7 linked regions of the Homo sapiens genome follow. The protein of the gene in region 3 interacts with the protein of the main gene of each other region in a biochemical or structural test. Each region holds a gene or a part of one and is shown on either strand. Other genes may lie near its edges.

Region 1 (3,500 bases), on a different chromosome or scaffold from region 3:
ATCAATTATATGAAGGTAAAAGAGAAACTAAGGGAGACCAGTCTTTAACTCAAAGGCTAAGGATACTTAAATCTACCCCTCAAGTCTCTGGTGTAAATGATGTCATGAGGAAAATGTTTGGGCTCTGGAAGCTGTGTTTTCTGATGGCAAACTTTTTTTTTTTTTTTTGAGACAGAGTCTCGCTCTGTCACCCAGGTTGGAGTGCAGTGGCGTGATCTCAGCTCCCTGCAAGCTCCGCCTCCCAGGTTCATGCCATTCTCCTGCCTCAGCCTCCTGAGTAGCTGGGACTACAGGCGCCCACCACCACACCTGGCTGATTTTTTTTATTTTTAGTAGAGACGGGGTTTCACCGTGTTAGCAAGGATGGTCTCGATCTCCTGACCTCGTGATCCGCCTGCCTTGCCTCCCAAAGTGCTGGAATTACAGGCGTGAGCCACCGTGCCCTGCCTCTGATGGAAAACTTTAAGATAGGTCTTTCTCTTGGAAATTGCCACACAAGTCAGTTTTGCAATAGTGACATCTTCAATTACCAATCTACAAAAATCCCATGCATGACCATGTTTTTAGATTACAGGAGCCACTGAAGCCAATTTCTATCTGTCATAGGATTTGGGAAGCTGCCAATGTCACCTAATGAGTCACAGATAATAGGCTACAGAAAGTCATAGCATTTCTCAGCCTAGATTCATAACTACATAAACCCTACCTATCTCATCTTCTTGTTCATGTCTGACAGAGGCCAGCCAACTACCCGAAGCATTTCAGGTTCTTAAACTTAGACACCCATACAAACACACAGTTCACAGAGCTGCAACTTTTTCTGCTCTTGTGATAGTCAAAAGATAAACAATGCCGACTGGGCGCGGTGGCTCACGCCTGTAATCCCAGTACTTTGGGAGGCCGAGGCAGGCGGATCACGAGGTCAGGAGATCGAGACCATCCTGGCTAACATGGTGAAACCCCGTCTCTATTAAAAATACAAAAAATTAGCTGGGCGTGGGGGCGGGTGCCTGTAGTCCCAGCTGCTTGGGAGGCTGAGGCAGGAGAATGGTGTGAACCTGGAAGGCAGAGCTTGCAGTGAGCTGAGATCACGCCACTGCACTCTAGCCTGGTTGACAGAGCGAGACTCCGTCTCAAAAAAAAAAAAAAAAAGAAAGAAAGAAAAAGATAAACAATGCCAATCTCAACTTTTTACCCAGGCCTATTCATGGATAATAGTCAAAGAAATCTAGAACCTGAACAAGTTTATTGACATCAGCATTTTCATCACCCTATTCTTCCCCTCTGCTAAATGTTTCTTACAACCAAGTCCTATGGATGTGGAAGTATGAGGTACCTTTAAGTGTTCAAGGTCAGCCTCTATCTTATGAATGTACTCCATGATCTGGCTCTGTGAATCTGCACAAGAGGAGGGACTCTGGATCTCAAAACAGGAATACTCCATAGCTCCCCAGCGCTGCTGGACCAGAAATTCGGGGGTGAATGGTGAAATTGCCCCATCGGAGTGAGTATTCTGAGGAGAATGTTGCTGCTGGTGGGTGGATTCCACAGCAGGGATGCCTGTCATGGGCTGCAGGGTAAGTGAGGAAGCAACCTCCTCATCTGTGGAACTCTCCTGCACTGGGTCATAGCCATCAAGGATCAAATAGTTTCCTATGGATAGAGACAGAATAGTTTGATAAGACCAGTGCTGCCATTAGAAAACAGAAATAGCATAGTGTGCTGACAACTTCAACTTGAAAAGTTATTAAGAGAGGGAAAAGCCATTAATTCCTGAGTTTAGTTTCAGGTACATCAGAATTTCCTCACTTCAGATGAAAGCTAAACTCTGCAAACTTTCATGGTAATTTCCAAAAAATTTCATTTCAAAAGTTTAAAGCTGGAAACTACAGTGCCTAAATGATCTTGCTACCACTTCCCCTGCCAAACGCCTCTCTTGCCCCATCTCCTGCCATTGTCTCCCTCATCCAGTGTTCGATCACCACAAAAAGCTTGCTCTTTGACACAAAGCCTCTGCCCCACTCTGCTCTCTGCTGGAATAGTAAGCTCCCAGGTACCCACCCGGCTTTATTCCCTCATTTCATTGAGGTCTCTGCTCAAATGCTACCTCATCGGAGGTCCTAATCCCTGATCACCCTGTTTGCCTTCATTACTCTCCGTCCCCTCAGTCTGACTTATGTTTCTTCCTAATACTTCCTGAAGTCTATTTATTTGTTTACTTATTTACCATCCTTCTTTCCCCTAGCTTCATGAGAAGATGGGATTTTTCTGTGTTTTATTCACTGCTATATCTCCCAGCACCTATGATGAGGTCTGGTACAGAGTAGATTCAGTATTTATCAAATGAAGGAATAAATATTGCACATGTGTGAACACACACACACACACACACCTGGATACCAATACAACATCCATTTCAAAATACAGGACAGTTAACAATGATCAAAATCAAAATCAAAGTTTAAGTGTGAAAGATACTTGCCTGAGATGCGTAAATTAACATCCTTCTCTTCCTTGTTAACTGCTCCATCACCTTCTGATGGATTCTCATCACTATGTGCTTCACGGGCATCAAAAAAGTGCTCTCCACTGTCATCAAGACCCCCTTCTGGCTCCATGGTAGGCATCTCTGGGGTCATAATCATGTGGTCCATTACTAAAATGTTACTTGCCTGGCTATCCTGGGGTGCCAGTCCCACTGAATCCCGTGGAGCAAAAGATTCAGTTGAAGTCCGTGGACTGTAACAAGTTGCAATGTCACCAGTTCCAGTTCTAAAGGGCATATGTCCTTCACCAGAATGATAGGCCTTAATATTTTCAGAGTTCTGGATGACACTGTCTGTCTGCGGCCCCTGAGAGGCTGTTCTGTATCTTGGGAAATGTTGCCAGTCTTCCTGAACGCTCTTCTCAGTCAAACCTAGCTGTTGCACCAGCAACTGCTTCAACAAACCCACTAAACGATTTAGGAAGGAGGGGGAAAAAAAACATATTCACAACTATAACCTCAGGCTGCAAGAATTAAATTAGCTGACTTACCAATGATCTATCTTTAAAAAGTATCTTTTAATGACATATTAAAATGTTAATTATTAATTTCATACAATCATCTTACTTCATACAATCATTTTCCATTTTGTTTTGAAGATGAAATAAAGCACCATCTTTTAGAGAAGATTTAACGTTAAACTAAACTTGAAAAGATCTAAGCATTCTGAATAGGGAGATACTACTATTTAGAACTCCTCAATAACCAATATCATGCCTCTATTTTTTCTTCTATATAACTAGAATAATACCCTAAAGGTACTTCTTAAGAATGTTGAAAGGCTGTGTTAAGCTAGACAGAAAAAGCTAAAAAAAAGTTCTGCTTTTTCCAGATCCAGACACTATATGCATATTATTTCCTCTAATTTTATGAGATACATACATTTACTGAAAATAAGAACCAATTTAATTTTGAATGGGCCAAGTGTATGCTATGAGGTCACCCAGACAATGAT
Region 2 (3,500 bases), about 130 Mb from region 3:
CATTATCATCAGTAAAGACACCACAGCTAAAGAAGTAGTTTTTCATGCTGTTCATGAATTTGGTTTGACCGGTGCATCCGACACATATTCTCTCTGTGAAGTTTCTGTTACTCCTGAGGGTGTCATAAAACAGAGAAGACTTCCAGATCAGTTCTCCAAATTAGCTGATAGAATTCAACTCAATGGAAGGTGAATAAGCTTATTAGTGGATGTGCTTATTTGTAGATGTGCTTTTGAAGATTTCCTGTTAAAACAGCTATTGTAAGTAGAAACATTATCATGTTTTAGTGCTCCTAAATTCACTCCAGAAGACGCTTGATAAAATATCTTGTCACTCCTGCTAAAATAAACTCTTAGAACCACTGATATAATCTAGTTCCTGTTTTTTTATAGAGGAAGCTGAATGATACAAATCTTCATATATATCTGAATGACTGTATCTACTAATTTATAAATTTGTTTTTAATATGGCCAGTATGTACTTTGGCAAAAGAAGCCATGGTTTTCACAGTTCTTTTTCTAAGTAGTTTTCCTTTAATGAATATGCAGGAAAATTTTAAAAATTTTAAAATGTGTTCTGAAAATTATTTAATAAACTAGATTATTTCTGTAGTACATTTGTTCCTTACTCTGGTTTTTTTTTTTTTTTTTGAGATGGAGTCTCCCTCTGTCGCCCAGGCTGGAGTGCAGTGGCGCGATCTCAGCTCACTGCAACCTCCACCTCCCAGGTTCAAGCGGTTCTCCTGCCTCAGCCTTCTGAGTAGCTGGGACTACAGGCACATGCCACCATGCCTGGCGAATTTTTGTATTTTTAGTAGAGACGAGGTTTCACCGTGTTGGCCAGGCTGGTCTCAAACTCCTTACCTCAAGTGATCTGCCTGCCTCAGCCTCCCAAAGTGCTGGCATTACGAGTGTGAGCTACCACACTCAACCACTCTGAGAATAATCTTTTTGGTAACCCAGTTTCATATGTAGAACAAGATCCCTAGAAAGCTTACAGTGACTGCATGCCATGGTTGCTGTGAAATGAGAATGAGTTAACTCTGTTTTGCTGGCTGTACATAGTGGTTAAGAGCATAGACCCTGGATTCAGATTGCCCACATTCAAATCCCAGCTCTGGCTATGTGACCTTGAGCAAGTCATATGTAGCTTCTCTACCTGAATTTCCTCACCCATAAAATGAGGATAGTAATAGTAGAATATACCTCATGGGAATGTTGTAAGGATTAAATGAGTTACTAAGTATACCATACCTTATAATGTTAAACATTATTATATATAGCATAATGAGTTTCAGCACTATTATTTATGGCATTGTCTTAGGCATATGAACAGTCTAAAAGCAGAAAAAAGAGTTTCTTGACAGTAAAAAATAGATGGATAGATGGATACAAACTTAGGCTTAAATCAAGTTGGATTATTAGAAAAGAACGAAGTAAAAGCAGGTGATACATTACCTCGTTTCCTTAGTAACATCCCTGCACAAGATGTTTCCTGTCTCTTACTTTTAAGTGCTGTAGAATTGTTGATTTAAGAGAAGAAAGCAAAATATAGGTCTTAATGTGTGGTAACTGATAAGTGCCACTTGCTGGAATGAGGTTTTGTATTTAACAAGGGAGAAACCATTAGTGGAAGTGTTTCCCCTCCTCTGTAGATTTCATTCCTCTTGCTTCACTTGGAAATTTATTTAAAAAGGAAGTGAGTGGAGTAACTTCTGAATAGAGATTTTTAACCGTCTTGATTCAGGAATTTATTTTGCCTTAATTAGAATTCATGCTATTCATAAACAAATATTTACATAGTACCAATCCTCTGTCAGATAAAACAGTAAGATAAAAGCTTTACGAGGGCAAGGCCAGTACCTAAAATAGTATCTGACAGATAGTTTCATAAAATAATTAAGTTCATGACATAACAACATTATTTTTACTCTTTAATAGATGCCAGTTGGTAGAATAAGAGACAGACTTCTCAAAAATCTTTTCATTTAAAATGTTAACTTTTCATTTTATCTGTAAATTAATATTTTTGGCTAAAAGTTATTAACAGTAAAATGATATTTTACAACGACAAAAAGGAAAAGTGCTCTTATTTAATCATATTTATGAATACATTTATTTAAAAAAATTTTTCCATTTAGGTATTACTTAAAAAATAACATGGAAACAGAAACCTTATGTTCAGATGAAGATGCTCAAGAACTAGTTAAGGAAAGCCAGCTATCCATGCTGCAGCTCAGTACCATTGAGGTGGCCACCCAGCTGTCAATGAGGGACTTTGATTTGTTTCGTAATATTGAACCGACTGAGTACATCGATGACCTTTTTAAGTTAAATTCCAAAACAGGAAATACTCATTTGAAGAGGTTTGAGGACATTGTAAACCAAGAGACATTCTGGGTTGCCTCAGAAATTTTAACTGAAGCAAATCAGCTCAAACGAATGAAGATTATTAAGCATTTTATTAAAATTGCACTTCATTGTCGAGAATGTAAGAACTTCAATTCCATGTTTGCAATAATAAGGTAAGTTGGTACAAATAGGTACAAATGTCTGTATGGTTTTGTCATTACATGCAGCTGATTTTCTACTTAGGTATTCAATGCCTATGAAAAGAAATGTTCAATTAATATGCCTTTATTGAAGTGTTGTTAGATTTAATGTATTTTCCATTTTGGTGGTATTGGCTTTTTCTATTTTTGTTTCTTCCATCTTTCTTTTACTTCTTTTTTGTAAATGAAAGTGGGTGATTGCCTTCTAATTTTTCTTTCTCTCCCTTCATCTCCAACCCCCCGCCTTGAGTGATTATATCATCTTTGGATATGTGCCCAGTGGCTGGTCTTTATCATTAGACTTCTGTACTGTGCTTTTTTAAGTACCTGCCTCACTATGATTTGACTCTGAAAAATCACAGTATGGTATCAGTACTTTGACCTAAAGTTGCTATTTTGAAACAACAACATTGATAATAATGGCAACCATTTGGTAAGCTCTTCCTGTTTGCCAGGCACTACATGAGGTTCACTGGATGTGGTGTTCCTCAAGCAAGTTAGGCTGTTAGAATAATAAAAATGTTTTGACATTCATAAGCCCAGGAAGTGTAGATAATTACGTGAGCTCTCCCACTCCCTTCTTCCCACTTATTATGAAAAGTTAATTGTAGGTAATTTATTTTCTGATCTTTATTTAGCACACTGTAGATCAACAAAGGGATTCTTCTTAAAACAAGTTTAATTTTAAAAGGGAGAGGAGTTGTAGTTAGCTCCATTTTTAAGGCCATGATGTGCTTATAAATCGCAGCATAATTCCACTTGAACTAATCCTACCTATACACATCCCCCACAGAATTCATAATGATTTGTTTCTACTCCTCATGTAGATTAAGATTAAAAAGTAGAATCTTTATAGGGACTCTTTATTCATGACCCTGTCATGGTAATAGGATGTGCCTTTATTAAATTAACCAGTGTCTACAACTGAACTGAACACTCTAGGAGTAT
Region 3 (3,500 bases):
CCCTCTGTCCTTTGGGCAGCATGTCAGAGCCTCAAGGCAACCCCAGTTCCTGGGACAGTGTGTTTGGAGGCAGATGGCCAGGCCCCGCAGTCAGGACTCTGCAGGTGGCCAGTGTTTCAGCATGAGGGGAGGAGCCAAGCCGAGAGTGGCTGGGTGGGCAGTGGGTGGAGAGGCTCATACCCTGATGTGGCTCCCATGCTGGTCATCAGCCACCTGCCTGGCCAGGTAGCTGCAGGCTGGATCAGGTGTCACAGGGGAGCGCCTGCCTCCTCCTCACCCTGATCTGTGTGTGCAGCTCAGGCCTCTGCCCAGTGCCACACCAGAGCCAGTGCCCATGGCTGCCTCCCTGGGCCTCACCTCATGCACTTTCACTCCAGGACCTGCAATTGTCCTTTCCTTCCATTTCTTTCCTGATTTCTCTTCACTATACATCAATCCATCATCTATTATCTATCAATCAATCATCTATCTATCTATCATCTATCACTGTCATCTATCAATCCATCACCAATCTATCATCTATCTGTCATCTCTATAATCTATCAACTGTCTATCATCTATGAATATATGAAGTACATGTGTGTGTATGTATCTATCTCCATCCATCCTATTGTATATCCATCCTATCTACCTACCTATCATCCATCCATCCACCCATCCATCATCCATCCATCCACCCATCCATCATCGATCCATCCATCCATGCTATCCAGCTACCTATCATTCATCCATCCACCCATCTGTCCATCATCCACCAATCCACCCATCATCCATCCATCCATCCATCCACCCACCCATCCATCATCCATCCATCCATCCATGCTGTCCAGCTACCTACCTATCATTCATCCATCCACCCAAACATCCATCATCCAGCAATCCACCCATCATCCATCCACCCACCCGTCATCCATCCATTATCCATCCATCCATCCATCCTATCTAGCTACCTACCTATCATTCATCCACCCATTCACCCATCCATCATCCATTCATCATCCATCCATCCATCCATCCATGCTATCCAGCTACCTACCTATCATTCATCCATCCACCCAGCCATCCATCATCCAGCAATCCACCCATCATCCATCCACCCATCCATCCCATCCATCATCCATCCATTATCCATCTGTCCATCCTATCTAGCTACCTATCATTCATCCACCCATTCACCCATGCATCATCCATTCATCCATCCATCCATCCATCCATCATCCATCCATCCATACTATCCAGCTACCTACCTATCATCCATTCCTCCATCCACCCATCCATTATCCATACATCCAGCCAGCCAGCCTTCCATCCACCCATCCTATCTATCCATTCTATCTACCCACCTATCATCCATCCATCCTATCCACCTACTTACCTAGCATTCATCCATCCATCCATCCATCCATCCATCCATCCATCCATCCATCCAATCTATTCACTGTCTCCACCTAATTTCTGACATCTCATCTTTGTAATTTGTTCTCCAGTGAGCATCTTTTCACATGCACTGGTGTTTGTTTTGCCTCCTCCTGGGGCTGCCTATTCTTCCTAGCTGGAGCACTAGGCTCTACGTTGTCCTTGTGGTATTTTTCTTTGATTCTGTAACATGCCATGGTCCTGCAAACACACCCCTTGGCTTCATTTTGGCCTTTCTGGGGTCCAGACGCCCTGCTGACTTCATGGTTTGTCTGGCTCCAGCTCTGCACTTGTGGGCCCCCGGCCACAGCTGATTTTGCTGCCCTGGTTGTCCTCCTCTCTCTTCCTTGGCTCCCGTGGGCCACACGCCTGCTGCACCCATGGCTCCTGTCTCCACAGGGCTTCCCCTTCAGTGCTGCAGGCACACTTCCACCCCCACCCCCACCCAACTGCTTTGCAGCCTCATAGGTGCCATGTCCAGGTGCCCTCTCTCACTGCACCTGTCAGCTGCTGCCTCCCTGGGGCTTCCTGGGAGGCTTGCAGCCATGCCCGCCCATCCCTTCTCCCCTTCCTTCCCACTTCTGCCTTGGGTTTACACTTGCCTCATGACCCCCAGACCTGGCTCCACCGGCCCACCCACACAGGGCAGCACCTCTCAACGGCCTCCTGCCTCATACCCCAGCTGAGATGGCCCTTCCCCTCTTGCTGCATTGTCCTCCCACAGCAACATGGATGCCCCTGGGCGGCTTTGGGGCCTGCCACCTCCCCCACTTAGTCCACCTGATTTCCAACGATGCCCCAAGGGAGCTGCCATTTTTGTCATGCCAGCCTTCCGCCAACAGCTGCTTCTGTTTCTGGGCCTGTTTGCCAGGAAGGGTGCAGCCCTTTCTCCTCCCTTTCTGGACAAGGGTCCCATCCCCCATGGCCCAGCTGAGTCTCCTCTCTCCGGGAGGCTTTCTCCAAATATTTTAACCCTGAATTATGTCTTCTTTTGCTGACCAAAGCTGCAGCCTGAGTCTAGATGGAGTTTCTGATGTAATTTGATTTAGATGACTCGTGCTGTATCACAGGTACTTGGGATTTGGCTTCCCGAGGAAAGAACCCTGGTGTCTGCAACTCTGACACCTCTCAGCCCTGGCAGGCAATGCATATGGAAACCTGGGAATGCCAGAGCCCCTGTGGACTGTGAAGCAGTGAGCAGACTGTACTCACAGACGCCTCGCAGAGCCGGTAGAAGTCAACGCTCAGGTATGCTCTGATGCCGTCTATGGCTCCAGGGAGGGTGACCCCACGCAGGAGCAGGGCAGTGAGGACCACGTATGGCATGGTGGCTGTGATCCATACCACCTGCAGGAGAGGACAGTGTCACCAGGCTGCACAGGCAGGGCCCTTGGTGGGAGCAGACACTGGCACAAGGGCACCGGGTTGCCCTGACGGCTTGTCCTCTGATTGGGAGGCCCAATTCCCAAACATTTCCTGGGACGCCAGCTCAGCAAATGCTCCTTGGAGTGAGAAGGTCAGACACTTTCTGTCCTGCACACCCTCCCCAGGGATGGAAAGGGAAGAACAACTTGGCAGGGAAAGCACATTCCTTTTCTGCATTCGGTCCGCCAGAGTAGCTGGGAGTGGCTGATGGGGGTTTTCTGATGCGTGGGACGTGAGTGGATTCACACTGGTGAACGGCACTGTGGCACGATGAAGGGCTGCTCTGGGCTGTGTCCCTGCGGGAGGCTCCCGTGGCTGGTGCCATACTACACGCACTTTTCCAAGGGAGGAGTCGTATCTTGGTCAAAACTGGTTTTGGCCCATATAACAACCAAAGTTTTTTTTTTTTTTTTGAGATGGAGTTTTGCTCTTTTTGCCCAGGCTGGAGTGCAGTGGCATGATCTTGGCTCACTGCAACCTCCGCCTCCTGGGTTCAAGCAATTCTCCTGCCTCAGCCTCCCACGTAGCTGGGATTATAGGCACGTGCCACCGTGCCTGGCTAATTTCGTATTTTTAGTAGAGATGGGGTTTCATCATGTTGGCCAGGCTGTTCTTGAACCCCTGACCTCAGGTGATCTGCCCGTCTCAGCCTCCCAAAG
Region 4 (3,500 bases), on a different chromosome or scaffold from region 3:
TGCATTCCAGCGTGGGCAACCAGAGGGAAACTCCATCTCAAAAAGAGGAAGAAGAAGAGGGAGAAGGAGGAGGAGGAGGAGGAGGAGAAGAAGAAGAAGAAGAAGAGGAGGAGGAGGAGGAAGAGGAAGAGAAAGAAGAAGAAGAAGAAGGAGAAGAAGGAGAAGAAAAAGAAAAAGAAGAAGAAAAAGAGGAAGATGAAGAGGAAGAGGAAGGCAAAGAAGAAGAAGAAGAAGGAAGAAGAAGAAGAGGAAGAAAAAGAGGAGGAAGAAGAAGAGGAAGAGGAACACGAAGAAGAAGAAGAAGAAGAAGAAGAAGAAGAGGAAGAAAAAGGTATTATATCACAATAGATTGAAAAGCTAGAGAAATGTTCTCTAGGAAGTAAATTTTAAACAGTGGCTGAAAACGAGTAGAATATCAAAGATAAAGTATAGAAAAAGGGTGTTCTTTCCAGAGAGTGGATGGGACTGGCTGGGGCCAAGTCAGGCATTTCAGAAATTCAAAGAAAAGGAGGCAGAAACATTGAGAGCTGAAGCTAGGGAAGGACATGGGATGATTGATCTGGTTATAAATTTTGGACTTGAACACAGTATAATGACAAGCTACTATAGCAAAAATTTTAGTATGCCCTCTCTTTATACTGCAGATATTTCAACATCTACCTTAGCTTTTTAAATTGATAAATTGGCAAAAATCTATAACTAAACGTTGCAGTTTCCAGAAACCTTGCCAATTTTATGGTTTATTAAATTGCCCTTCATTTTCCTTATAATAAAAAATATTATCTAATGTCATTATTAGTCAGAAAATTTTGTTATTTTTTCCTTTTCATAAATCACATGTAGCAATAGGATCTTAAAATGGACTTCATGTAAGATTTTCTATTCTCTTAGCAAAACTTTACTCCTTTGCTCTTTTAAAACTCAATTTAAGATCTTCTGTTATATTACCCAAGTCGTGACTCTCTCTCAGACAAAGCATCCTCTAATCAACTCTGCAAATATAGTTTCAGCATCTCTGAAAACTTCTTGCCATTTCCTGTTGTTATTTATAATATACTTCTCATGAACTGACTCACACTGCAAATGGCATCTGAGCACCCAGGTCTCATTTTAGTGAGGGAGAGAAATATGTTAAAATAACGAGCATATGACAGTGCTATAGAGGTAACATGCTAAGGAAGCAGAATAAGGAACGATAAATCATCTTGAGGGAAAGTAGGAGGGGGAAAGTTGTATTGTAGGGAGAGACTGTAGTACCATCAAGGACTTAAAGACAAATGCAAGAGCAACCTGGTGCAAGCCTGAAAAAGACCAGGTGATCCTGCTAAGAAATTCATAGAATGCACCTGCCAGGAAAAGATATTGGAGAGTTAAGTGAGAAGGGGGCAGCATAGACTCTAAGCTTTAGATGGCTAAGAGTGGATGGGTGGGAGGAGGAGAAACTTTGGAAAAAGCAGGGGTTCCTTTATCAGAAATTTAGTGAAAAGTGACTATAGCTCAATCATTTTAAAGATCTACTTTCAACATAATCATCTAAAATCATTGACACTAGATTTCTTTTACTAGAGTTTCTACCTTTGCTGCCTATAACATTTCAAAAGATTGTGTTCCTTTACGGTTGCAGTCATTATCAAGTTATATGCAAGTAATAATATATATATAACTAACTGAAAAACTAAATAAGATACTCTTAGAGACTGGCATTGACTAGAAGTATTAGTATAATAAGGAGTATTTACACGATTATCCACATAGGTTTAAATAAGAATGTATATATTCCTCTTTCTCACCCTCATTCTCTCTCTAACACACATGCAGGAGCTGTTATAAGGTGATAAGAACAAAAGTTCTAGCTTCAGAATTCTGTCTTGATTTGAATCTCCTCTCTTTTATTTATTAATAGGTAATCCTTGTCAAGTTGATTACCATATATATAGCTTCCTTCACTCATCACTAAAGTGGAAATAATTAATTGATCTGATGATTAAATAAGATACTATATTTAATTCTTTGCTTAGTATCTAATACTTGGAAGTACTTAATGTTGGAAATTTTTGTTGTCAGTATTGATTCAATAAAATAAATACAGATAAATATTCGTATCATTTCCTAACTTGCCTTCTATGGCTTGCTCTCTGCATGCATTTCTCTTTTGTCATAGTTTGACTTATGCCCCAGTAGAAAGAATAGCCTCCAGAATACTTTTTTGCCAACTGGAAAGTATCATTTAATAATAGTAATGATAATAATAATAGCTAAACATATCAAGAACTCATCAGTTGCATTTTTCTCAATTTTCTCACTTCTCCAGAAGTATCTTCTATTTTGTTAGATTTGTTCCAAGTTCTCTCAGATTTATAAAGCAATATTACAAAGAAACAACAGGTTTTTTTTTCAAGATGGCTGACTAGATGCTTTTCCAGGGTACTTCATCCACTTAGAAGAATGACAATGGTGTGTAGACAATCACACTTTGCACATATGAAAGCAAAATCAAATATTGGGACCCCAAACTCACTATACCAAAGGGCTAAGTTTAGGTAGTTAGTCATGAAAAAACTGCCTTCCTTTCATTCCCAAAAAGCTGTAATTTCATGTTTACTTTATGTAAAATGTAGCTTTTCTGCTCATTAGTAAGATCCTCACAAGAATGTGACCACTTATCTCATTGCCTACCCAGACTTTTTTTCTTTCTTCCTCTTCCTGCTTGCTTTTTCCCTGTTAAATATTGAAGTTCCCAGAACCCTTTTTAAAAAAAAGCACAGGGTACAGATCTCCTTGTGATTTGTGTTTCTTTTTCCCAGGCATGTTCTCAACCTTGGCAAAATAAATCTCTAATTGATTAAGATCCACCTCAGTAACTTTTTTGTTTACAAACATATTATCCAAGAGAGAACACAGGAGTTCAACAGTAACACACGAAGAAACTCCAAAATCTGACCAGAAAAAGAAGAACAGTCAGCCTGTGTGGCTGTGGGACTGGCTGAAAATGAGAAGAGAGTAAATTCCCAATATGGGAGAGGGTGAGTGAGTATCTTTCTGTGGTCCAATTTCCCACTATAGAATCATATAATTCAGGCCACGGTAGAGCACCATGACTTTTCTAAGCCCTAGATCTACCTTGGGATGTGGCTGGGAGACTGTAAGAAGTACCTGCTCTGGGAAGTGTCCCATGCACTTCCCGAGACCTTGGAACCTACAACAGAACACCATTCTTGATCCTAGCTCTTTGCAAGCTGTGCACAGTCCTGAAAACTAGCAGCAGTGGCAGCCTTTGTCATTAAAGAGGCTCTAACAGTATCCTGGGGATCTGGTGCTCAAGCAGGGAAGAGGTTCCCACAGCCAGAACCGAGAATCAAGTATGGCATGGGCTCCAGCCATTGGCATGCTGGAACCAGGCTCACCCCATCTTTCACTTCACCCCCTTCCCCCACCAGTACAGGAGGGGATTTGTTTGGGAGGCATAGTGTTGGGCTGTGCAGTGACTCCTAAGGCCTGGG
Region 5 (3,500 bases), on a different chromosome or scaffold from region 3:
ATCGCAACTGCTATGTATTTTCATCTCCCTTCTCTAACAATCAGTAACAAGCAACCCAATCAGTAATAAACAAGCCTGACAAATAGCTCCTAAATTCACAGAGAAAAGAATGGTCTCCTCTCTTTCATAAGTAAAGCAAGCTGATAATGTTCTAGTAAATAGAAAGACTAAATGCCTCTTCAAGAAAAAAACATTTATATGCCTGGAAAAAACATCTTGGGTTTTTTTGTTTTTGTTTTTTTACTTAAGTATCTGTTCATAGTAGGTAGCAAATAATCTTTCCACACATATGCACTTTACCAGTTCTTTTAAAGACTCAGTAATCTAAGAAAGCAAAGCATAAGACTATGCTGAAAGAGCTAAGCCGCAGTTTACATAAAATTTAAACAAAACACAAGACATTAAAAAAATTCAACTACTCATAAATAAAGACCAATAAATCTACACTTTGGTCTGGGTTTCTGAACACAGGAAGAATCAGAGGGTTCAATAGGAGAGGTTATTTCTGAAATCGTAGGCATACCTTGAAGATATCACATGTTCCATTCCAGACCACCTTAGTAAAACTAACACTGCAATAAGGTAACAGAAATGTTTCTGCTTTCCAAGTGCATATAGAAGTTATATTTACAGTATACTGTAGTCTATTATGTTGGCAATAGCATTAGCTCTTAATTTTAAAATGCTTTATAATTTTTTTAAAATGCTAGTGATCATCCGAGCCTTCAGGGAGTCATAATCTTTTTGCTGGTGGAGGATTTTGCCTTGATGTTGATGGCTGCTGACTGAACAAGGTGCTGGCTGCTGAAAGATGGATGGCTGTGGCAATTTCTTAAAATAAGAAAACAATAAGGCCGGGCGCTGTGGCTCACGCCTGTAATCCTAACACTTTGGGAGGCTGAGGTGGGTGGACTGCGTGAGCTCAGGAGTTCAAGACCAGCCTGGTCAACAGAGTGAAACCCCATCTCTACTAAAATATAAAAAATTAGCCAGCTGTGGCAGTGTGCACCTGTAATCCCAGCTACTCAGGAGGCTGAGACAGGAGAATCTCTTAAACCTGGGAGGCGGAGGTTGCAGTGAGCCAAGATCGTGCCATTGCACTCCAGCCTGGGCAACAGAGCGAGACTCCGTCTCAAAAAAATAAAAAAAATGAAGTTTGCCACATCAACTCACTCTGCCTTTCAGAAAAGATCTCTCTTTTGGTAGCATTTCACCCACAGTAGAACCTCATTCACAATTGAAGTCAATCCTATCATACCCTGCCACTGCTTTATTAACCAAGTTTACAGAATATTGTAAATCGTTCATTGTCATTTCAACAATGCTCACAGCATCTTCACCAAGAATAGACTCTCTCTCAAGAAGCCACTTTCTTTGCTCATTCAGAAGAAGCAACTCTTCATCCATTCGAGTTTGATAATAAGATTGCAGCAATTCAGTCATATTTTCAGGGTCTACTTCTAATTCTAGTTCTCAGTATACTATTTCCACCACATCTGCAGGTACTTCTTCCACTGAAGTCTTGAACCCCTCAAAGTCATCCATGAGAGCTGGAATCAACTTCTTCTAAATTCCTGTTAATGGTGACATTTTGACCTCCTCCTTTGAATCACAAATGCCCTTAATGGCATCTAGAATTGTGAATCCTTTCCAGGTTTTCAATTTACTTAGCCAAGATCCATCAGAACAATCACTATCTATGGCAGCTATAGCTTTACAAGATGTGCTTCTTAAATAATAACTCTTGAAAGTTGAAATGACTCCTAGATCCATGGGTACAGAGTGGATGTTGTGTTAGCAGGTATGAAAACATTAATTTCCTTGTACATCTCCATCAGAGCTCTTGGGTGACCAGGTGCATTGTCAATGAGCAGCACTTGTTCAATGGTACCCTTTCTTCTGAGCAGTGGGTCTCGACAGTGAGCTTAACAGATTCAGTAAACCACGCCATAAACAGATGTACTGTCATCCAGGCTTTGTCGCTCCATTTATAGAGCACAGGCAGAGTAGATTTTGCATGACGCTTAACAATTTTTGGAATGGTAGATGAGCAGTGGCTTCAACTTAAAGTCACCAGCTGCACTAGCTCCAAACAAAAGAGTCAGCCTGGCCTTTGAGGTGAAGCACTGACTTCCTTCTAGCTAAGAAAGTCCGAGACGGCATCTTCTTCCAATATAAGGCTGTTTCATCTACACTGAAAATCTGTTGTTCAGTGTAGCCACCTTCATCAGTGATCTTAGCTAGATATTCTGGATAACATGCTACAGCTTCTATATCAGCATTTGCTGCTTCACCTTGCACTTTTACATTAGGGAAGCAGCTTCTTTCCTTAAACCTCATGAACCAACCTCTTCTAGCTTCCAACTTTTCTTCTGTAACTTCCTTACCTCTCTCAGCCTTCATCGAATTGAAGAGAGGGTTTTGCTCTGCTGGCTTAAGGGAATGTTGTGGCTGGTCTGATCTTCTATCCAGACCACTAAAACCTTCTCTATATTAGCAATAAGGCTGTTTCACTTTCTTATCATTTGGACGTTCAGCAGAGTAGCACTTTTAGTTTCTTTCAAGAACCTTTCCTTTGCATTCAGAGCTCGCTTGTTTGGTGCAAGAGGCCTAGCTTTTGGCCTGTTTCAGCTTTTGTCATGACCTCCTCACTAAGCTCACTCATTTGTAGCTTTTTGATTTAAAGTGGGAGACACGCGACTCTCCATTCACTTGAATACTTAGATGCCAATGTAGAGTTATTAATTGGCCTAATTTCAATATTGTTGTGTCTCAGGGAATAGGGAGGCCTGGGGAGAGGAAGAGAGTTGGGGAATGGCCAGTTGGTGGAGATATCAGAACATATGTAACATTTATCAGTTAAGTTCACCATATTATATAGGTGCAGTTCATGGAGCCCCAAAACAATTAGAATCGTAACATCAAAGATCACTGACCAGAGATCACCATAACAGACAGAATAACAATGAAAAGTTTGCAATATTGTGAGAATTACCAAAATATGACAGAGACACACAAAATGAACATACACTATTGGAAAAATAGCACCAATCGACTTGCAGGGTTGCCAACGAACCTTCAGTTTGTAAAAAACACAGTATCTTCAGAGAGCAAGCCTGACTAACAATTTCCTTCACTTTAAATTCAAAATGAAGGAATACCCTTTCCTTCCGAATGTATCTCATTTAACAAAATTCAAGACTTTTTTTTTTTTTTTTTGAGACGGAGTCTCGCTCTGTGGCCCAGGCTGGAGTGCAGTGGCACGATCTCAGCTTACTGCAAGCTCTGCCTCTTGGGTTCAGGCCAATTCTCCTGCCTCAGCCTCCCGAGTAGCTGGGATTACAGGCGCCCACCACCACGCCCGGCTAATTTTTTCTATTTTTTAGTAGAGACAGGGTTTCACCGTGTTAGCCAGGATGGTCTCAATCTCCTGACCTTGTGATCCGCCCGCCTCGGCCTCCCAAAGTGCTGGGATTACAGGCGTGAGCCACCATGCCTGG
Region 6 (3,500 bases), on a different chromosome or scaffold from region 3:
CCTCCGCCTCCCAGGTTCAAGCAATTCTCCTGCCTCAGCCTCCTGAGTAGCTGGGATTGCAGGCATGCACCACCATGCCCGGCTAATTTTGTATTTTTAGTAGAGATGGGGTTTCTCCATGTTGGTTAGGCTGGTCTCGAACTCCCAACCTCAGGTGACTCACCCATCTCGGCCTCCCAAAGTGCTGGGATTACAGGCATGAGCCACCGGCGCGCCCAGCCTGTTTTGGTTTTTTTTTTTTTTTTTTTTTGAGATGGAGTCTCGCTCTATCGCCCAGGCTGGAGTGCAGTGGTGAGATCTTGGCTCACTGCAAGCTCCGCCTCCCAGGGTCAAGGAATTCTCCTGTCTCAGCCTCAGGATTAGCTGGTATTACAGGCGCTCGCCACCACACCCAGCTAATTTTTTTTTGTATTTTTAGTAGAGACAGCGTTTCTCCATGTTGGCCAGGCTGTTCTCAAACTCCTGACCTCAGGTGATCCGCCCGCCTTGGCCTCCCAAAGTGTTGGGATTACAGGCATGAGCCACCTCGCCCAGCCAACAAATAGCCACATTCTTAACTTTGCATATTTTTCCAGTTAATTCACTTAGATTTTGATCTAGATGCACAGTAGTATAATTTACAAATAGAGATAACTTTTGTTTTTCCCTTCCAAATGTAACTATTCTCCTTGTCTTGTTACACTGTCTGAAATCTCTAAAGCAGTGATTCTCAACCACCATAATTTCGCTGGGGCAATTCTGTCATAACATTTTTTAATTGTTATGACTGAGGGGGAGGAGTACCATTGTCATCTGATAGACAGAGGCCAGGGATGCTGCTTAATATCCCACAAGGCACAGAACAACCCCCCACAATGAAGAGTTATTGGGTCCAAAAATGTCAGGAGTAACACTGAGAAACCCTGCTCTAAAGCAATGAAGAATAATAGCAGTGGGAAGAGGCATCCCTGCCCTCTTTGTAAGTTAACGGAGGCCGGGCGCGGTGGCTCACGCCTGTAATCTCAGCACTTTGGGAGGCCGAGGAGGGCAGATCACCTGAGGTCAGGCATTCGAGACCAGCCTGGCCAACATGGTGAAACCCTGTCTCCACTAAAACTACAAAAATTAGCCAGGCGTGATGGTGGGCACCTGTAATCCCAGCTACTCGGGAGGCCGGGGCAGCAGAATCACTTGAACCTGGGAGGCAGAGGTTGCAGTCAGCTGAGATCACACCACTGCACTCCAGCCTGGGCAAGAAGAGCGAAACTCCATTTCAAGAAAAAAATTAAAATTAAATTAAAAAATAAGTTAATGGACACACTGCTAAAATTGTATCATTATAAAATGTTTGTTACTGGTTCCTGATAACTAGTCTTCACCATCTTAAGGAAAATTTCTGTGTTCCTAGTTTACTAAAAGCTTTCATCCAAAAGAGATGGTGAATTTCACCAAATGCCTTTTTCACGTCTATTTAAGATAATCACATCGTTTTCTCCTCTCGCTCTGTCACCCAGTCTGGTGGGCAGTGGCGCAATCATTGGCTTACTGCAGCTTCCAACTCCTCGGCTCAAGCGATCCTCCAGCCTCAGCCTCCCAAGTAGCAAGGAGTATAGGCACGTGCTAATTTTTTTAATTTTTTTAGAGACAGGATCTCGCTTTGTTGCCTAGGCTGGTCTCAAATCCCTAGCTGGTCTCAAATCCTCCCACTTTGGCCTCCCAAGTGCTGGGATTACAAGCATGAGCCACCACACTTAGCCTCCCGTAACGTTTTAATATATGAATCATATTAAGAGATTTCCTAATATTGAGCCATCTTTAGTTTTCTGAAACAAACCCTATGTTATTCCCTTAACATGCTGCCATGTTTGCTTTGCTACTATATTATTGTAAACTCTTGTATCTCTATTCAGAAGCAAAACGGGTCTATACTCTCCTTATTTTACACTATCCTTGTGACCATTCGAACTGGCCTTATAAAATGAAATGTGAAATCTTTTATCTTTTCCTGTACTCTGGAAGAGCAGAAGAATTATCTATTCCTTGAGAATTTCACAAAATTAGCCATAAAACCAACCAGGCTTTGTGCCTTCCAGGAGAGAGATCGTTGACGATCTTTTCTAGTTCTTTTATGGTAATTGATTTTCCATCTCTTCTCCAACAACAGCAAGGATCAGAGGTTGTGGCTATTTCATAGGGAATATCTGAAGAGGGACAGCTACAGGGATGTCGTGGGACTGCATGTCATGGGTTAAACGGGATGGGTCATGGGGAACTTTGGTGTTTGAAGGGCTCTCACAGGTTGTGATGTCTGGGGGAGCATAGCTGTCACTCAGGTAGGCATTGCTGGGCTTGGCCACCTTTAGGTAGACAACATCATACGTGTTCTTCAGGGCTGCCACAGCATCTTCATGCATGACGTCCTCTAGCCCCACACTGTTGACCTGGAGTCAAGGAAAGCAAAGCTCAGACAAAGCCACAAATGGCCCAAGACAGAAGCACTGGGGTGAAGTGATGAACTTGGGCCTGCCAGGGCTAGTAGGTGAGACCCAAATCTGGGCTAGAAAATGGGCTAGATGGAGTCCTCACCGCCAGGATCTTGTCTCCAATCTGCAACCTCCCATCCTTGTGGGCAGCACCCCCTTCGATGATCTTTGTTACATAGATGCTATTATCTCCTGGGATGTGCTGGTTCCCTACGCCCCCTGCGATGCTGAAGCCAAGACCTGGATGGAGGGGAGGCCAGAGGTGGGTGCCCAGGAAGCAGGCTTGGGGGCACAGGACAGTTGGGATGGGGGTGGGAACAAAATGAGTTACTACCTTTAGGCCCCTTGATGAGCTTGATCTCCATGACCTTCTCAGCCGGGGGCTTCCGGCGCATGACATAGAGGCGAACGATGGAGCCTGCCTCTTTGAGGGCTTCCACCGCCGCTGAGTGGGTCACCTCGCGCACGTCCACTTCATTTACAAACAGGATGCTGTCGTTGACCCTGGGAGCAGCAAGGTGGGCCTGAGCCAAGAGCTTCCTGCTGCCCTGGCCCTCCCTCTCCAGGGACCAAGCAACCTAACCCCTGTCTCCTCTCCCCACCTGAGGCGGCCATCCTGGGCCGCAGCCCCACCAGGAATGATCTTGGTGATGAAAATGGATGGGTCGTCACCGATGTGTGGGTTGTCAGTGCCACCTGCGATGCTGAAGCCCAGACCTGAGTTACCCTGGGTGAAGGAGGGGAAGAGGGTCAGCTCCCCTCACTGCCCAAGTCTGGCAAGGCAAGTGGGGTGGGAAATGGCTTGGAGCAGCCAGAGGAGGAAGGCACAGGGTGAGGGGCTAGCCACCCAGACCACATGGCAGAAAGAAAGGTACAGACGGGAGGCCACGGGGACTGCCGATGGAGGAGCCTGCTCACCCTTTCCAATGTGATTTCCTCGTATTCCATCTCCCCCTCGGTCCCGTTCACCTGCAACTCCAGCACGGGACAGAAACACAAAAGCAGTGAGACAGACATTCCTGTCTGACCACCTGCCCG
Region 7 (3,500 bases), on a different chromosome or scaffold from region 3:
AGAATCTAACTTCTAGCCTTAATCTTTCATAATCTGCTACTCCCATTAAAAAAAGAGGTCTATCTAATGAAGAACATGGAGAAGATAATGTATGCACATACAGAAAGCACCTTAAGTGTATGGCACCCAGTGGAACTCAATGAATATTATTTTCTTTTCTTTTAAGCTCCTTGGTCTACGGTCCAATGCATAATTGCCTTATAAATAGATTCTTACTCATCAAATATTTTTATAGCGAGGCAAGCACCATTTCTGAACACAGAAAGAGCCACTTACAGACAAATCTCAACAGAATTGCCAATTCAAATTGTCTGGTTATACTCATTTAATCCAGTGTAGCTGGGTAACATATTTGTAAAACAAATCCTAATTTTCCTTATAAATCACAGAAATGAAATAGAAGTGACAATCTGTAACTTTTTTTTAGCAGAAGTGCGCTGTTTTGTTAGATATACTATGGAATGGCCCTGTGCAGGAGCTTTTCAGAAACAAAATATACTTCATGGTGAATACTCTAACAGATACATTTCAAAGTGTTTGGACATCTGGAACACCTTTTGATACAATTGTCTATCAGATTTACTTATTTCCAGTTCTGAAAAGGACAAAATAGTTTCTAGGATTTGGGGCTTTATAAAACTTGATCTGGGTGGATCTAGTGGAACAAAAATAATGCCTCCCCTAAACCTGAAAACAATTTTGTTAACTGGGTCATCACGGAGAAACTCATTCTTTTTAAACACGAGCCCACTTTTGGTTAGCAACCTGAAAAGTTTTGATGACTGCCAAGACAGGCCTTTCAATCTTGAACTCATCACCAAATGAATACATATCAAGAGCTTACAGTGCACATGGCAATGGATTAGTGCCACAGACATGGTACTGGACAAGACAGACTCTTCCACTTATTTAGTTACAGCTATGATAAATGCCATGCAGGAGGATAACCAAAGTAAGAGTCTCAGGGCACCAGATGTAGTCTGCGAGGTCCGAGAGGCCTGGCTTCCTAGAGGTAGTGATGCTTCAGCTGAGATGAGAATAGAAAGAACCATTGTCTAGTGATAAGCAAATCCTAAGTGCAGACAGAAAGGCTGTGGGCAAGAGGAGAGAAGTGGAAATTTTGCAGGTTATTTAGTGCAGAGTACTTGGTAAGATTGTTCCAGGTAGACAGAAGAGCAAGTGCAAAGGCCTGGAGGCAGAGAGGAGCTCAGGGGCACATGCATCGACTCTCAGAGACATGAGAAGCTGAAAGAAGAGGATGAAGGGGAGAAGAATCCAGGCAGGTGGAAGCCGGTAGGATCCAGAGCATGTTGGACCTTATAGCCAACCAAGAGAAATGGGACAGCATAGGAGGCTTGAGGGAGAGTGATAAAAGATACACATTTATAAGAGATTAATTCCTGATGCTAGGTAAAGAAGGAATTGAAGAGGAGCAAGAAGATTTGTAGAGGAAAGAGTTATGGTCCAGGCAAGAGTGTCTGAGACAAAGGCCAATTTTGCCCCTCAAGGGACGTTTGGCAATGTCCACAAATACTGTTGATACTACTTGGAAAGCGCTACTAGCCTCTAGTAGGTAGGTAGGTAGATGCCCGGGATGTTGCTAAACATCCTACAATGCACAGGTCAGCCTCCCACCCCCATCACCACTACCACCACCACCAACAACACACCCACACCCAAGAATTATCCATTCCAAAATGTTGGCAGTGCTGATTCAGAAACTCTGGTTTGGACCACGGTGGTCATTTGAGTGAGCTGGAGAGCTGTGAATAGATTCAAAATGTATTTAGGAGGTAAAATCCGCAGGATTCAAAGACAGACCGGATGGGAGGTTAAAGAACAAAAGGTATCGAGGATGTATCTCAAGTTTTTCAATCAATCCAAGGAAAGTTATGTCCAGAATTGTTCCTTTCCCAGAAAGAAAAGCAAAAAAGATGTTTGCTCTGGAGTGCTTTTGCTCTAAGAATCAGGGGGTAAGTCAGGATGGGAAACTGAGGCTGGGAGCAGAACTCTTTAACTCACTCAAGTGTAGCAATCCCAAGTCTGCTGCAGCTCAGATGTGGCCTCAGTGAGATCAGAGATGCCTGTCTAGGCTATGATTACCTGTCATTTAACTGCTAGGCAGTCTGGGTTTTTTTTGTTTTTTTTTTTTTGAGACGGAGTCTTGCTCTTTCACCCAGGCCGGAGTGCAGTGGCACTATCTCCGCTTACTGCAAGCTCCGCTTCCCAGGTTCACGCCATTCTCCTGCCTCAGCCTCCCGAGTAGCTGGGACTACAGGTGCCCGCCACCGCGCCCAGCTAATTTTTTGTATTTTTAGTAGAGACGGGGTTTCACCGTGTTAGCCAGGATGGTCTCGATCTCCTGATCTCGTGATCCGCCTGCCTCGGCCTCCCAAAGTGCTGGGATTACAGGCGTGAGCCACTGAGCCCGGCCTAGGCAGTCTGGGTTTTAAAATTTTATCCTGGTCTTAAGAAATTTAGGAAGGTGTTTAGACAATGACCAGTGAAACCATAACTGTGTGAAGACCAATACATGTTTGGTCTATATCTACCTGAGCGTAAGCTCTTCGTCTAGCTTAGCGGCTACTTAAAGGACCAGCATCATCTGGGAGCTCATTGGAAATGCAGAATATCAGGCCCCTGGCCAGCCCTAATGGATCAGAATCTCTAGGGGTGAGACTGAGGAATCTGTGTTAAGCTCTCCAGTGACTCCAATCACGCTAAGGCTTGAGAATCCTTAATATAGCTCACATGGTAGAACAGAAGAGACAACGTCTATGCTGGTACAGCACTAACAAACCCTAAGCGTTCAGCAGGTGTCAAAAAAACTGAAACCTAAGATAATTTAAAGAATGCCACATCATTTGTGCAAGTTCTAGGCTGCTGAAGAGCTGGTACTGAAAATCTGAGTGTTTCTAATCTCCTTCAGCTTATAACAGAGAAGCAAACATTAGGGCTTATTTTAAAAAGAAAATAAAAATGTTGCACATGAGAGTTTCCAGGACATATAAATCCTTCTGCCTTTTAGAAGAGAATAAACAGTACCCAGCAGGAGCAGAGAGCCGGCCCAATGAAATAAACAAGTTCTTAAACAGCTTCCAATGGGAGGAGTTTTATGGTTGACCCAGGAACAGCAAAAGCGTTCAGTAAGGGCCACTGAGGGTTAATTTCGGGGCAAGGAGAGACAGCAAGCTTCCCTAAGGCCTCAGCTGAGGCCAGGCTGGGTCTGAGGCCAGGGAAACTATCTAGGGCAGCTTCTGGGCCAGACCATCCTTTGCTGTTCTCAAGGCTGGCACTGAGGTTGGTAAAAGTTCCAAGCAGGGCTCCAACACCGGAACAAACCTTTCTCCGTAAGTTCAAAATCAACATCTTGTCTCTAAGCTTAACATCCTTCTTTATGCTACCCACTAACTCAACAGAGCCTCAAAAACATCCACAGTTTTGATTCAAGTATCATATTTTTGACTCTGAGGGAGATTTTACCCAAACACTCCAGAAAG

What was found.
Region 1: the proteins of SLC6A3 (region 3) and ARHGEF12 interact in a test that uses a peptide from one of them, tested with the Homo sapiens proteins (one large-scale study listed by IntAct).
Region 2: the proteins of SLC6A3 (region 3) and RAPGEF6 interact in a test that uses a peptide from one of them, tested with the Homo sapiens proteins (one large-scale study listed by IntAct).
Region 4: the proteins of SLC6A3 (region 3) and SNTG1 interact in a test that uses a peptide from one of them, tested with the Homo sapiens proteins (one large-scale study listed by IntAct).
Region 5: the proteins of SLC6A3 (region 3) and MPP7 interact in a test that uses a peptide from one of them, tested with the Homo sapiens proteins (one large-scale study listed by IntAct).
Region 6: the proteins of SLC6A3 (region 3) and DLG4 interact in a test that uses a peptide from one of them, tested with the Homo sapiens proteins (one large-scale study listed by IntAct).
Region 7: the proteins of SLC6A3 (region 3) and PDZRN3 interact in a test that uses a peptide from one of them, tested with the Homo sapiens proteins (one large-scale study listed by IntAct).

What each region holds. Positions count from the first base shown.
Region 1 is NC_000011.10:120,479,413-120,482,912, reverse strand, and holds part of ARHGEF12 (rho guanine nucleotide exchange factor 12), read right to left. Parts: intron 2,954-3,500; coding exon 2,483-2,953; intron 1,654-2,482; coding exon 1,337-1,653; intron 1-1,336. UniProt on the Homo sapiens protein: May play a role in the regulation of RhoA GTPase by guanine nucleotide-binding alpha-12 (GNA12) and alpha-13 (GNA13). Acts as guanine nucleotide exchange factor (GEF) for RhoA GTPase and may act as GTPase-activating protein (GAP) for GNA12 and GNA13.
Region 2 is NC_000005.10:131,460,730-131,464,229, reverse strand, and holds part of RAPGEF6 (rap guanine nucleotide exchange factor 6), read left to right. Parts: coding exon 1-189; coding exon of another isoform or gene 190-193; exon of another isoform or gene 194-617; intron 618-2,141; coding exon 2,142-2,525; intron 2,526-3,500. UniProt on the Homo sapiens protein: Guanine nucleotide exchange factor (GEF) for Rap1A, Rap2A and M-Ras GTPases. Does not interact with cAMP.
Region 3 is NC_000005.10:1,417,941-1,421,440, forward strand, and holds part of SLC6A3 (sodium-dependent dopamine transporter), read right to left. Parts: intron 2,764-3,500; coding exon 2,629-2,763; intron 1-2,628. UniProt on the Homo sapiens protein: Mediates sodium- and chloride-dependent transport of dopamine. Also mediates sodium- and chloride-dependent transport of norepinephrine (also known as noradrenaline). Regulator of light-dependent retinal hyaloid vessel regression, downstream of OPN5 signaling.
Region 4 is NC_000008.11:50,698,407-50,701,906, reverse strand, and holds part of SNTG1 (gamma-1-syntrophin), read right to left. Parts: intron 1-3,500. UniProt on the Homo sapiens protein: Adapter protein that binds to and probably organizes the subcellular localization of a variety of proteins. May link various receptors to the actin cytoskeleton and the dystrophin glycoprotein complex.
Region 5 is NC_000010.11:28,296,565-28,300,064, forward strand, and holds part of MPP7 (MAGUK p55 subfamily member 7), read right to left. Parts: intron 1-3,500. UniProt on the Homo sapiens protein: Acts as an important adapter that promotes epithelial cell polarity and tight junction formation via its interaction with DLG1. Involved in the assembly of protein complexes at sites of cell-cell contact.
Region 6 is NC_000017.11:7,200,628-7,204,127, forward strand, and holds part of DLG4 (disks large homolog 4), read right to left. Parts: intron 3,441-3,500; coding exon 3,381-3,440; intron 3,190-3,380; coding exon 3,065-3,189; intron 2,967-3,064; coding exon 2,797-2,966; intron 2,703-2,796; coding exon 2,566-2,702; intron 2,421-2,565; coding exon 2,276-2,420; intron 1-2,275. UniProt on the Homo sapiens protein: Postsynaptic scaffolding protein that plays a critical role in synaptogenesis and synaptic plasticity by providing a platform for the postsynaptic clustering of crucial synaptic proteins.
Region 7 is NC_000003.12:73,618,442-73,621,941, forward strand, and holds part of PDZRN3 (E3 ubiquitin-protein ligase PDZRN3), read right to left. Parts: intron 1-3,500. UniProt on the Homo sapiens protein: E3 ubiquitin-protein ligase. Plays an important role in regulating the surface level of MUSK on myotubes. Mediates the ubiquitination of MUSK, promoting its endocytosis and lysosomal degradation. Might contribute to terminal myogenic differentiation.